4 linked regions of the Homo sapiens genome follow. The protein of the gene in region 2 purifies or fractionates together with the protein of the main gene of each other region. This does not show direct contact. Each region holds a gene or a part of one and is shown on either strand. Other genes may lie near its edges.

What was found. Proteins that work in one complex are often made in the same cells at the same time.
Region 1: the proteins of MAPK14 (region 2) and IQGAP1 purify together in Homo sapiens (affinity purification with mass spectrometry; 5 studies listed by BioGRID and IntAct, with this or other methods). This does not show direct contact.
Region 3: the proteins of MAPK14 (region 2) and CSNK1G2 purify together in Homo sapiens (affinity purification with mass spectrometry; 4 studies listed by BioGRID and IntAct, with this or other methods). This does not show direct contact.
Region 4: the proteins of MAPK14 (region 2) and MIDEAS purify together in Homo sapiens (affinity purification with mass spectrometry; 4 studies listed by BioGRID and IntAct, with this or other methods). This does not show direct contact.

Annotation. Positions count from the first base shown.
Region 1 is NC_000015.10:90,394,742-90,398,241, forward strand, and holds part of IQGAP1 (ras GTPase-activating-like protein IQGAP1), read left to right. Parts: intron 1-3,500. UniProt on the Homo sapiens protein: Plays a crucial role in regulating the dynamics and assembly of the actin cytoskeleton.
Region 2 is NC_000006.12:36,072,808-36,076,307, forward strand, and holds part of MAPK14 (mitogen-activated protein kinase 14), read left to right. Parts: intron 1-65; coding exon 66-177; intron 178-883; coding exon 884-913; intron 914-1,241; coding exon 1,242-1,289; intron 1,290-3,040; coding exon 3,041-3,155; intron 3,156-3,500. UniProt on the Homo sapiens protein: Serine/threonine kinase which acts as an essential component of the MAP kinase signal transduction pathway.
Region 3 is NC_000019.10:1,972,172-1,975,671, reverse strand, and holds part of CSNK1G2 (casein kinase I), read right to left. Parts: intron 564-3,500; exon of another isoform or gene 1-563. UniProt on the Homo sapiens protein: Serine/threonine-protein kinase. Casein kinases are operationally defined by their preferential utilization of acidic proteins such as caseins as substrates. It can phosphorylate a large number of proteins. Participates in Wnt signaling.
Region 4 is NC_000014.9:73,722,304-73,725,803, forward strand, and holds part of MIDEAS (mitotic deacetylase-associated SANT domain protein), read right to left. Parts: intron 3,058-3,500; coding exon 2,969-3,057; intron 545-2,968; coding exon 395-544; intron 1-394.

The DNA.
Region 1 (3,500 bases), on a different chromosome or scaffold from region 2:
AGATCATAGAGATTGGAGGGAGAAAAGCTTCCCCTCTTCAGTTCTATTTATAATACCTCTACTTCTACTAAAAGCTCCACCTTTTAGTACAGTGGCCCCATTGTGTATCCTAGGGCACTCCATTTTCTCCTCTGCCTGTAACAGAGCTCTTTCTTGGGAAAAGAGAGGAGTGTGTAGAGAGTGAATATGACTGTGTAGAGGCAGTGAGTATAAGTAAGAGAGTATAAGTGTAGAGAGACGAAAGTTTTCTGTGGCTGTGGGTTTGTGTTTCCCTGAAAGGTTAACTGGGAAAATTTAGGGGTAATTCCTATAAATGAGCACTGGGAGTGGTTGAGAAATAGAAAATGTAGAGATTTCTGCTTTTCTTCATTGTTTGGAGAGCAGCTTCAATATTGAAATTAAGCCGCTGTTCTAATGAGATATCACCTAACGATTCAAGGCTTTTTGCTAAGGGCTGCACAATAGATCAAGGATACATCTTAAATTATTATTTATGCTTAAATTGAAGCTTATTTTTATCCTTTTGCCTGTTCTTATTGAGTTTTACATTTGTTTAGGCTAAGGAGCGGGGTTTTTTTTGTTTTTTTGTTTTTTTTTGAAACGGAGTCTCGCTCTGTCGCCCGGGCCAGAGTGCAATGACGCTATCTCGGCTCACTGCAAGCTCCGCCTCCCAGGTTAACGCCATTCTCCTGGCTCAGCCTCCCGAGTAGCTGGGACTACAGGCGCCCACCACCACGCCTGGCTAATTTTTTGTATTTTTAGTAGAGACGGGGTTTCACCGTGTTAGCCAGGATAGTCTTGATCTCCTGACCTCGTGATCCGCCCGCCTTGGCCTCCCACAGTGCTGGGATTACAGGCGTGAGCCACTGCGCCCGGCCGGCTAAAGAGCAGTTGTATAGGAGCAATGAATACCGTTTCACTCAGTTGAAGGAGGTAACATTTAAATATGTGAGGTATGTTCAGTGCTTAGGTCTTGGACAGGAGGAAGTAACAGATCAGAATAAGGTTCAGGTGAAAAGAACCAAGAAGAGAACGTGTCAGGCAGGACAGAACAGGGAATTCTGCAAGTGAGAAGAAAGTACGATTAGTACTGGAAATGGAAGAAAATTCAGCTAGGTTAAAGGTCACAGGAAGAAAGTTAATTCCAGCATTCTCTGAGTTTCAGACAATTCCTGGTGTGCGCTTTCAAGTCTGTCATGGGCCACCTTTCTGCTGCTGAGTGCCCGTACCCTAGCTCAAGGAATAGGGCACACCCCTCTTGTAGAAGGGAAGGTAGGAACGCTGGCTGGTTGGAGACTGTCAGCAACTCCACGGTGATAAGTCGAGCTTAGCACTAAGTAGAAGTATGTCACTTTCTGTAATTTAGAGGAATTGAAAAGGTATCTTGGAAAGAAATTAGTTCTTGGGAACAAAGTCTTTTTTGTGCATATGTCTTTACTGTTGGCATAGAGCATTTTCTGGGATGGGCTCTTCAGATCTCCTCTCCCTGTAAGTGATTTCAGAATTCCATGAATGTTGGGATATGTCCAGGCTGGCACCCTGGGATCATGAAAATAGAAGTTAAGACATTTAAGAAGCAAGAAAACAAAATGGGTAGGTGAGGTGACTAGGAAGAATATCATGCCCAGCACTTCTAGAATTCTCAAAATGAGGAGCATCACTTAAATTTTGAGGGGGATCATTTTTAGGATGGTGACCCAAGCTCTCTTTGTACAGATGAGAAGTCTAGTTATCTCATGAGACCCAGTGTGACTAAAGGACCATAGCATGTAGCTGCGTAATGGCACGGTGGCACTAGGAGCTGATCCATTCATTTATTTATAATTACCAAGGGGAAGTATGGGGTGAGATTTATTCTTAACTCTTAAAATGGTGACATACACTATTTTAAGAATAAACCTCCATTCTTTTTTCGGATATTAATTTAGTGCAACGGCCTTGGACAGGCTCCACCATAAGAAGTGGGTTGCATTTAAAAGTGTATTTATTAAAAGTGGTTGAAGCTGAGTGCTTTTCTGTATTGTAACACTGTTGCAAATGGGGAGTATTCATTCCTAATGTGGCTGCCGAAAGCTTTTTACCCTACCATGTAGCTGAAAATTTAGCAAAAAAAATTTTTTTTTTTTTTGGAGACGGAGTCTCGCTCTGTTGCCCAGGCTGGAGTGCAGTGGTGCGATCTGGGCTCACCACAACCTCTGCCTCCCGGGTTCAAACGATTCTCCTTCCTCACCCTCCCGAGTAGCTGGGATTACAGGTGCCCACTGCCATGCCTGGCTAATTTTTGTATTTTTAGTAGAGATGGGGTTTGACCATGTTGGCCAGGCTGGTCTCCAACTCCTGACCTCAAGTGATCCACCCGCCTCGGCCCCCGCAAAGTGCTGGGATTATAGGCGTGAGCCACTGCACCCAGCCTAGCAAAATTTAAAATTAAGAAATGTAAAGAGTTGAACTAGTTAGTACCCATTATTATTAAGAAAAGTCATGTGGCTCTATATTCTCATAGTACGAATAATTAAGTAAAATAGAAATTCAAAAGTATGAATAAAATTTCTTTGAAAATCTTGAATGTTGAGATATCTTGCCACAGTGAAAAGAATCAGACTTTCTGTTTTGGCAGGTGTGAGTTCTGATTCTGGTTTTGCAAGTTGCTTAACGTCAGGGAGTGAGCCCAAATTTGTCCTTTGCAGAATGGGAACGCTATGCATCTTACAGAGCTGCTGTGATGGTTAATTGCTTGGCACAGTGAAATACAGTAGGCACTCAACAAACTTTTTTTTTTTTTTTTTTTTTTTTGAGACGGAGTCTTGCTCTGTCGCCCAGGCTGGAGTGCAGTGGTACAATCTTGGCTCACTGCAACCTCCGCCTCCCAGGTTCTCACCATTCTCCTGCCTCAGCCTCCCGAGTAGCTGGGACTACAGGCGCCTGCCACCACACCTGGCTAATTTTTTACATTTTTAGTAGAGATGGGGTTTCACTGTGTTAGCCAGGATGGTCTCGATCTCCTGACCTCGTGATCCACCTGCCTCGGCCTCCCAAAGTGCTGGGATTACAGGCGTGAGCCACCACGCCCGGCCTGAACTCAATAAACTTTTATCCAAGCACCTGGATAAAGGATATCCTGAATTTTTTCTTTTCTTTTTTTTTTTCTTTTTTTTTTTTGAGATGGAGTCTCACTCTTGTTGCCCAGGCTGGAGTGCAGTGGCACTATGTTGGCTCACTGTAACCTCTGCCTTCTGGGTTCAAGCGATTCTCCTGCCTCAGCCTCCCAAGTAGCTGGGATTACAGGTGCCTACCACCATACCCAGCTAATTTTTGTATTTTTTAGTGGAGACGGGGGTTTCACCATGTTGGCCAGGCTGGTCTCAAACTCCTGACCTCAGGTGATCCACCCGCCTTGGCCTCCTACAGTGCTGGGATTACAGACATGAGCCACTGTGCCCGGCCTCCTGAATTTTCACATTAAATCTGCAAAAGGAAAAGCAGATTTAATGTGAAGATGA
Region 2 (3,500 bases):
TCTTCTGAAGATAAGAACTTTCTTAGGGGTTCTAGATTGTTATGTAACTTTTCACTAATTTCTAGGTATCTGGTGACCCATCTCATGGGGGCAGATCTGAACAACATTGTGAAATGTCAGAAGCTTACAGATGACCATGTTCAGTTCCTTATCTACCAAATTCTCCGAGGTCTAAAGGTACAGATAATACAAGTAATAATTTTTTAAAATGAATTCTCCCTTTCTCCCCTCCTTTTAGGGCTTAAACAAACAAGTAAACAACTTTTCTAATGGAAAATTCAAACACATAAAATCACAGGTAAAGGTCATATAGTACAGTAAACTGCCATGTTCACTCAGTGACAACAGTTACCGACATATGGCCAATCATGTTTCTTTTGTATTTCCCAAGCCCTGGATTATTTTAAAGCAAGTCTAGACATTATATAATACCATCCATAGATACTTCAGTTTGCATATCTGAAAGATAAGGACTCTTCATTCTTACATCTAAACAATAATTTATTGATGTAATCTAATATCTGGTCAGCGTAATGTTGAGATTTTCAAAAAATCCTCAAGAAAGACTAATTTATTTGTTGGAGGGGCAGATAAACAGTGTTTTAAAATTAAACCCATCTTTGATATTTAGCTGCTTTGAGTCCTTATTGAGCTCCAGAGTGCCAACCAGAAAATAGATTAAAAGCTCAACTGAGTGGAGTCAATGGCTGTGGAAATTATAGTAATGGTAAATGTACACAATACTGATAGTTACTTATGCTGATTTCTAATCTTACTATTAACACTAGCAGTTCTTACTGATTCATGAAAATGTGCAGCAAATATGTTATATAATATGACAATAGAAGGTTGGAGGTAACTTTGACTTTTTTCTCTTTTGCAGTATATACATTCAGCTGACATAATTCACAGGGTATGTATTGTGACTTTGATTACATTATTTTGGGGAAGTGGGGTGAGAGTGGAAGAATGGCATTTAGCCAAGATCCTAATCTAAACTTTAGCCATTGAAATGTTGATTGATTGCAACTTTACTGTAGGTTTAAGCTGATTAAAGAAAGAAGATGTGTAGTTTTTTTCTATGTAAGGCTAACTTGGACTGGATATTGACTGTAGGATGGAGATTGTCTTTTGATAGCTGGATGAAGTCTTTTATGTCTGGATCCTCATTATTACCTGTAGGGGGAGAATTGATCATGCATCATAAAGTTGATCCTGTCTTCCCTGTATTTGCTTCCTAGGACCTAAAACCTAGTAATCTAGCTGTGAATGAAGACTGTGAGCTGAAGGTAAAATGAAGAGACAGTATTCATTGTTTGCTTTACTTTGAGATTATATGTTTGACTAAGCAGGCAGACTTTCTTAGGGAGTAGCTTTGTGAGCCATGACTATCTGAAATTCGTATTATTTTTATTATCAGACTTTGAAATTTAAACCATTTCTGAGTAAGCTAAGTGACATTGAAAGTGGCATCACTTGTTTTTATTTTAACATAAAGTTAAATTATAAATTTGATATATTAGTCATAATAAAGGAGGATAATAGTCAAATATCAAGTAAGTAGGCCCAAAGAGGTGATAACTAGATTAAATACATTTCTAAGAGGAGAAATGGCAGAAACCCACTCACTCAAAATAATTCAAATAAAAAATAAGTGAATTAATTGTTTCTAAATAGCAAGCAGCTCTAGAACTTTTGTTCCATTTCATTTTTTTAACTTGAAAAAATGTCTGTACATTAGAATGCACCATTTCATTTGGCAAAATTATATATCCACTTAACTCACATTTATGATAAAGACCATTTCTTTTTTTTTCCTTTTTTTTGGGATGCAGTCTCACTCTGTTGCCCAGTCTAGAGTGCAGTGGTGTGATCTTGGCTCACTGCAACCTCTGCCTCCCGGGTTCAAGCGATTCTCCTGCCTCAGCCTCCCGAGTAGCTGGGACTACAGGTGCACGCCATCACACCCGGCTAATTTTTGTATTTTTAGTAGAGATGGGATTTCACCATGTTGGCTAGGATGGTGTCGATCTCCTGACCTCGTGATCCACCTGCCTCGGCCTCTCAAAGTGCTGGGATTGCAGGTGTGAGCCATTGCTCCCAGCCAAGAACATTTGGATTACTTTAAAAAGTTTATGGCCAGGCGTGGTGGCTCATGCCTGTAATCCCAGCACTTTGGGAGGCCAAGGCGGGTGGATTATGAGGTCAGGAGATAGAGACCATCTTGGCCAACACGGTGAAACCTCATCTCCACTAAAAATACAAAAATTTAGTTGGGCATGGTGGCGGGCACCTGGAGTCCCAGCTACTTGAGAGGCTGAGGCAGGAGAATGGCGTGAACCTGGGAGGCAGAGCTTGCAGTGCGCCGAGATAGTGCCACTGCACCCCAGCCTGGGCAACAGAGCAAGACTCCGTCTCAAAAAAAAAAAAAAAAAAAAAAAAGTTTATTGTGTCCCTTCCTAGTCAATCCCTACCCCTCCACCCCTAACTCTGGCTCCAGGCAACTATGGATCTGCTTCTAACACTATAGATTAGGTTTATCTTTTCTGGAGTTTCATGTAAATGGAATCATATAGTGTGTATTTTTGTGTGTCTGGCCTTTGCTTGGTGTAATGATTCGGTATTGTTGTGTGTGTCAGTGGTTTCTTCCTTTTTATTGGTAATAGTATTTTGTTTTATGAACATAACAGAATTTTTAAATCTATCCACCTGCTGATGGACATTTGCTTGAGTTTGAGGCTGTGTAAAGCAACTGTGAATGTTTATGTGCAAACCTTTGTATGGACGTAAGTTCTCATTGCACTTGATTAAATACCTGGGAGTGACATTTTTGTTTTGCTTTTTGTAATTTCATTTTAAGTTCTTGCTGTATATTTACCATACATTCTAAGTATGGACCAGGAAATCTCTTTATGAAAGTGCTATTTTGTTCTCCTTTTTAATAAGGCAACAGAGGTTTGTTTGTTGTTGTTGTTTTGTTTTTTTTTCCCTGCCTGTTTCTAAGTCTTAGCAGTTTGTCTGTTCCTCTTCTGCCCTTTAGATTCTGGATTTTGGACTGGCTCGGCACACAGATGATGAAATGACAGGCTACGTGGCCACTAGGTGGTACAGGGCTCCTGAGATCATGCTGAACTGGATGCATTACAACCAGACAGGTATTACTCGCCTTGGTTATTTAGGGCCTTATTTAATTCCATGTTGGATGCATTTGGGATTCTCAGAAATAGAGATGGTGGGAGTGGGAAGAAATGTCTTTTCTTCCCTCAGTGATCCTTTTAAAGCCTGCAAGTAAAAATATTTCACTTCCTCAGATGGGGAAGTGGGGTTTTATACACAGCTTTTAAACCTTGTGATTTAGCAATTGGGTTTTTATTTATTTAGATTTTGAATATATTCTCTGAGTACTTATACCTAAAGACAATTAGTCCATAATTTTAACCCCTCAATGTTACTTGGAAGAATCTACCATTCTACTAATAAGAAACTTGCCCCTTTTTAAA
Region 3 (3,500 bases), on a different chromosome or scaffold from region 2:
AGGTTCAGTCCAGCATTTGCGTGTCCTTCCTGCGCTGCCCTTCGGAGGTGGGATTCACAGTGGATTCATCCCCCCTTCCCCGCCCAAAAGGCTGCCCCTGCGGTGGGCTCCTCGCCGTGTCGTGCTGCGTGTGCCCGCCTGGTGCTGTGCCGCGGCTCACAGGGAGGATGGGGTTTGGTTTGCCCATCTGCCCTTGAGGCACGCCCTCCCGTCTCCAGTTCTGACTCTCCAGAGCGGAGTTCCGGCGAACACGGCTGTGTAGCTCTTCCTGCGGGCAGCCGTCCCCTTCTCCGGCAAAGTGTCAGTCACGTGCTGACCACCAAGCACTGAGCTGCGCTCCCCCAGGCTGAGGAGGACAAGCCCTCGCCTGTGTGCTACACCGTCCCTCTGCTGTCTGTCGATGTATCATCCAGCTGTGGCTCCCTGACGGGCAGGCGGATGCTCGCCAACGTCCTCCCCAGCCTGGCTGGCCTCATGCTCTTGGCAGCGTCTTGATGGGCGGGCCTTTGAAGCTCTGATGCATCTGATGGTGATGGGGTCCTTCCCGGCTCTTCTACTCTGCACTGTGGAAGAAACCTTCGCCTGAACCCCACCGCTGTGTGCGGCTGGCGTGTCAGAGACCTGGGTGTGTGCTGGGTGGGTGTGGCAGCATCTGAGGCCTGTGGATCTGCAGACTCCTGGAGGAGGTCGGGCGCTCTGGGCTCTGAAAGCCAAAGGGGCCTCCTCCGGCAGTACTCGCGATGCATGCAGAGGGCAGGAGAGCCCACGGGGCCTGGCAGAGAACAGCTCCAGAGAGGCTCAGGAGGTTCCGGGGGACACACAGGAGGGAGGACGCCACAGCTCCAATGGCCGGAGTGCGGGGTCCTCCCTGGATTCTCTACTTCAGCTGAGAACCCAAAAGGTCCACACCTTGGCACAGGGCTCCCTGGCCTTGGAGTCGCTCATGTTTACCCTCAGCCTTGCCCCAGCAACGCTGAAACCAACCTGACAGAAACAAGGTGAGCCACGGGGACAAACTCAGCGCTCAAGCCGGGAGACGGCACCCTCCACACCTCACGGCACACACCACGGCCACGCCCAGTGAGGCTGTCCCACAGGTGAGTGAGGGAGGTGTGACCGTGACAAGGGAGGAAGAAGCAGCACAGACGTCACTCCACACAGTGCTGTGTCTTTGATGCACCCCCCAAGGGTCATGTGTTGGGAACCTGGTCCCCAATCCAGCACTGCTGGGGCTGGGGCTGGGGCCTAGAGAGAGGATCTGAGTCGCTGCCCTCGTGGATGAGTGAATGCCATCAGCAGGGGAGTGGGTTCCTGACTAAAGGGCGAATCCAGCCCCCTCCGGTCTGTGCCGTCCTGCCTTCCACCATGCCTTCTTGCCATGACATGGCAAGAAGGTCTTTGCCAGACGCCACCCTCAATCTGGGGCTCACCAGCCTCCAGAACGGTGAGCCCATCAATTTCTGTTCATTATAAATGATCTGGCCAGGTGCAGTGGCTCATGCCTGTAACCCTAGCACTTTGGGAGGCTGAGGCAGGTAGATCACGAGGTCAGGAGTTTGAGACCAGCCTAGCCAACCAACACACAGTGAAACCCTGTCTCTACTGAAAATACAAAAATTAGCTGGGTGTGGTGACGGGCGCCTGTAATCCCAGCTACTCGGGAGGCTGAGGCAGGAGAATTGCTTGAACCCGGGAGGCGGAGGTTGTGGTGAGCCAAGATAGTACCACTGCACTCCAGCCTGGGCAACAGAGCAAGACTCCATCTCAAAAAATAATAAATAATAAATAAAAATAAATGACCCAGTCTGTGGCATTCTGTTACAGCAGCACAAAATGGACTAAGAAACAGCACAAACATGTTCAAAGATTTAAAGGAAAAGATGGCCAAAGTGAATGTGCACATGGGAAATCTCAGCTGAGAGCGAATGGACAATCAGACGAAACCGAAAAATGCCACTAAGCAATCAAAGATTCACCACATGGACTTCTGGGGTTGGAGGCTGCAGAAAAAGAGTAAACTTTCAAGCAGCAGCAGCAGCAGCCGCACAGCCTGACACCAGGAGAGCACAGAGGCAGACGGAAAACAGCCAGGGCTGAGGGACCTGGGGACAGGGCCAAGCACTCCTGTCACACGCAGAACCAGAACCCAGGAATGAGAGCAAGGCTGGGTATGGTGGCCCACGCCTGTAATCCCAGCACTTTCAGAGGCCAAGGCGGGCAGATCACCTGAGGTCAGGAGTTTGCCAACATGGCAAAACCCTGTCTCTACTAAAAATACAAAAATTTAGCTGGGCGTGGTGGCAGGCACCTGTAATCTCATCTACTTGGGAGGCTGAGGCAGAATTGCTTGAACCCAGGAGGCGGAGGTTGCAGTGAGCCGAGATCGCGCCACTGCACTCCAGCCTGGGCAAGAGAGTGAGACTCTGTCTCAAAAAACCAAAGCAAGGCCAGGCGCGGTGGCTCACGCCTGTAATCCCAGCACTTTGGGAGGCCGAGGCGGGCAGATCACGAGGTCAGGAAATGGAGACCATCCTGGCTAACACGGCGAAACCCCGTCTCTACTAAAAATACAAAAAATTAGCTGGGTGTGGTGGCGGGCGGCTGTAGTCCCAGCTACTTGGGAGACTGAGGCAGGAGAATGGCACGAACCTGGGAGGCAGAGCTTGCAGTGAGCTGAGGTTACGCCACTGCACTCCAGCCTGGGTGACAGAGCGAGACTCTGTCTCAAAAAAAAAAAAAAACAAAGCAGGCGAGGCGCGGTAACTCACATGTGTAATCCCAGCACTTTGGGAGGCCGAGGCAGGTGGATCACCTGAGGTCAGGAGTTCAAGACCAGCCTGGCCAACAAGGTGAAACCCCATCTCTACTAAAAATATAAAAAATTAGCCAGGCATGGTGGCTCACGCCTGTAATCCCAGCTACTCGGGAGGCTGAGGCAAGAGAATTGCTTGAACCCGAGAGGCAGAGGTTGTGGTGAGCCGAGATGGTGCCACTGCACTCCAGGCTGGGCAACAAGAGTGAAACTCCATCTCAAAAACAAAACAAAACAAAGCAAAGCAAAGCTGAGATGGAAAAACGTTTCATGAAATAATGGCTCACATTTTTCCAAAGTTAATTTGAAAAAGTACCAACACAGAGATCCAAGAAGTCAGTGGATCCCAAGCAGGATAAAAACAGAAAGCCTCATCTAAGGAGAGCATAGTCAATATTTTAAATCAAAGATAAAAACCTTAAAAACAGAAAAAACGACACATTCTAGAACATTCTAGACAACGGAACAACATTCAACAACCGGAGTCCACAACAGGCTCAACATCAAAGCCACCAACAGTCCTGAGTGCTGGGGACGTGGAGTGCTCGAGGAGCCCAGTGCTATTCAGTTCTATTTGGGCAGTTAGTTCTATTCAGAAGGGCCCAAATCCAGAAACAGCCAAGCGTCCCTGCGCTGGGAGCAGATGAAGAAGGGCTGGTGTGTCCTCCGATGGACGGCCTCCCGGCAC
Region 4 (3,500 bases), on a different chromosome or scaffold from region 2:
AGTAATGGCACAAGTAGTATATGAATATGACAAAAATTCTAATGGCGACACATGGTAGGATGCAGATATGGCAGAAATCAAAAAGGTGATACAAGAATGACTGAGGTTTGAGAAACAGTGTTAGAGGTCTGCTAAGCGGAGATAGGAAGATGATGCTGGTGTGAATCTTGTGGGAAAATTACCCTGTGTATCAACACAATGTATTATTACTATGACACCAGCAGTATAGAGAGGAGAACCCAGCGGTCCAGGGCTCCTTGCGGCTGTCAGGGACACTGTCTTCCTCAACCTGCCCTCTGCAGGCTCCTGGAGAGCTCGGGCTCGGGCTCCCAGCTCAGGCCTGGTCCCAGACCCAGCCCAGGCTCTATGCAGCTGAGGTTGGAAAAGGAGTCACCTTAATATCCACTTCAACCTCTTCCTGGGCCGACTTCTCATCGCTCGTATCCACATCCCCAAAGGTTAGAGTCCCATTGCGGCCGATTTTCACCTGCTTCTTGTAGGTGTAGTAGAACTCCACGCACTGGGCCACGGTCTTGGTCTGGATCTGGTTTGAAGTCAAAACTGAGGTCAGAACCCTCTGGTTTGGCTCATCTGCCTGTGGAGAATCCAGCCTTTCTCGTCCCTGCATCTTTCCCTTAACTTCAAGCCAAAATGAAACCCAGCCAACCCAGGCAATACAAGCATTTTTCCAATGCCTGCTCTGCAACAAACCACTGATCAATTAATCAATGCTTCAGCACTATTTAAAATAAGTAAATAAATAAAAAAAGCTATAAAGGACAATGTCGGAACCACTCGGGAGATGGCAATATGGATTGCATATCAGAGGGCATTACTGTATTTTTTTTTCTTTTTTTTGGAGACAGAGTCTCGCTCTGTCACTCAGGCTGGAGTGCAGTGACGCGATTTTGGCTCACTGCAACCTCCGCCTCCCAGGTTCAAATAATTCTCGTGCCTCAGCTTCCTGAGTAGCTGGGATTACAGGTGTGTGCCACCACAACCAGCTAGTTTTTTTTAAATATTTTTAGTAGACATGGGGTTTTGCCATGTTGGCCAGCCTGGTCTCAAACTCCTGGCCTCAGGAGTGATCCGTCTGCCTCTGCCTCCCAAAGTGCTGGAATCACAGGCGTGAGCTACCTCGCCTGGCCTGAATTATTTTATCAGGTTAAATTTCGTGGGCGTGCTAATGGTACTGTGGTTTTGTAGAATATCTTGGTTTTTAGGAGATACGTGCTGAAAGGTTTTAGTCATGTGACAGGATGACTGTAACTTACTTTTAATGATTAGCTGAATCAGAGAACAAGAGAGAGCTGTATATGTGTGTGTCTATGTTTAGACATAGAGAAAGAGAAAGCAAATATAGCCAATGTTAACGATTGCTAAATCTAAGTCCGGGGTGGATGGGTGTTCATTCTACTGTTCTTTCCATTTTCCTCTAAGTTTGAAATTTTTCAAACTGAAAAGTTGAGGGAAAAGGTCTGGGCACCATCTACATCCAAAGCCAGCCCTGACCTGGCAACACAGACGCTTTTCATTAATCCAGGCAAACAATTTCATTTCTCTCCAGGGAGCAGTGGCTGAGAAGTGAGCATACAGAAATGTCACAGTGTCCCCTGTCGGGGGAGGAACTCAAGGGAAACTCACAAGAAAGCCCTGGAAAACCTGAGGAGGAAGCGAAAGGCCTAAGTCTTCCTCCTGACTCTGCTACCACACAGCTATTCGAGCTTAGGCAAGTCACTCACTTTTCTAATTTCAGTTTTTTCATGTGTAAATAGCAAATGGGGTTAAGTAAGACTAGATGATCTCCAGGGACCTGCCTCTCAAGCTCTGAAATTCTAGCTCTCCCATTGCATAAATCTATTTGGCCACTGGGTTTAGTTTTTGGGCAACTTTCCCACACCCAGAGGCTGTTTCCTCTGACACCACCACACAGGCTCGCACATTGCTCAGCCACCGCTGGGCTGGGAGCTCCTGTCCAGAGAGGCCAGGGGTCAGTGTGGGCCCTTTGTGTCTGAGGAGGAAACAGACATGTTTCATCTCACAGAAATGGCCAAGTCACACATGTATTAATTAGGCCATTTACACATTTACTGTCAATTCTCTCTGACCCTTTGTTTGACTGACTAAAGGTCTGCTCATTTCATTAGGCATTAGGGGCGCCTCCGTGAATTTCACGGGCGTGTACTTCCCGTCAGTATTGCCCAATCAGGGAATAGCGTGTTACTAAAACACAGCAAAGGACTCCTCACAACAGGGCCCTTGTAGGGGAATTCATCATCAGCACTTTGTCTAGTCCCCAGGGCTGTTCCCAATACAATCTACAATCCCAAGAGGAAAGGGCATGCTCTTTTTAAAAACTCTTTTCCCTTGGCAGTCCACACAATTCTCTCTCCCCACAGCCCAGATTTTGTGAGACAGGGCTGGAAAGATGCAATTCCTTGGATTAGCAAAGCATCTGCTTTTCCAGAAGAATATGGAGAGAGGACAAGATAAATCTAGGGAATGTGGGCTTGAACAGCTGAGTTACTGGAAGGCAACTCTGGGTCAAAGGAAGTGGGCAGAGGCCCCCAGGTCAGCTCCGCAGGCACTTGCTGGCTCTCAGTGGCCTTCACCCCAGGGTGCCCTCCCCCTGCATCTTCCTCTGGGGAATGGCTCACCTCTACTTGCCACCCTCCTCCGCATCTTCCTCCTGCCTATTTTAAGTCTGATGCCCACTTAGGCCTCCTTCTGGATTGAGACCCCAGAGCTTGGCCACCCTACCCTGAAGTGAGGAAAGGATGCTTAGAACCAAAAGGGAAAAGAGACCTATCTTTCTCTTTCTTGTATTGTTTAGGAAATTCTCTCTGAGGCTACTCAGTAGCATTGACCTGACTGCTTTTTAAGAGGGATTGGTCACTGGCAGAGGGAGCCCCAAAGTCACACAGGCAGCTCCTGGCCCTCATTTGCCCTGAAACAGAGCCCAGCTCACCAGCTTCTGCACCAGGAAGAAATCCTTCTTGTAGATGGCAATGCCTTTGTTGAACAGCTTCCTCTCGGCCATCTTCCACTGGTCAGAGCCTATGGGGCAAAGAGGCAGCCAGGGAGTGAGGTGGGCAGGGCCCTGGCCACTGCAGGGCAATTTTGACAAGCAAAAAAGTGTGAGGCCATCCGCCCATGGTTTCTGCAGGCATCAGAGCCGGCTCCTCGTCCCACTTCCATGTGCCTCACAGCCTCGCTCCCTTGCTTGTGAAATGGAAACTAATATCACCTAGCTCACCAGCTGTGGTGAGGATTAAATAAGATAATGCATGTGAAACCCTTGGTGCTCTGCCTGGTGCAGATGAAATGTAGCACTAACATGCATGGAAAACATTGGCTGTTAGGATTATGTGACTCGGTCCATGTCCTTCTTAAAGTGACCAGAACAGGACATGCACTCCTGGGGCTAAGTTCCAGGTACCTGATGCCAATCTGGATGGCTCTCCATGGGTTCCTGTCCTTGTGGCCTGGGCTTTTTTGCC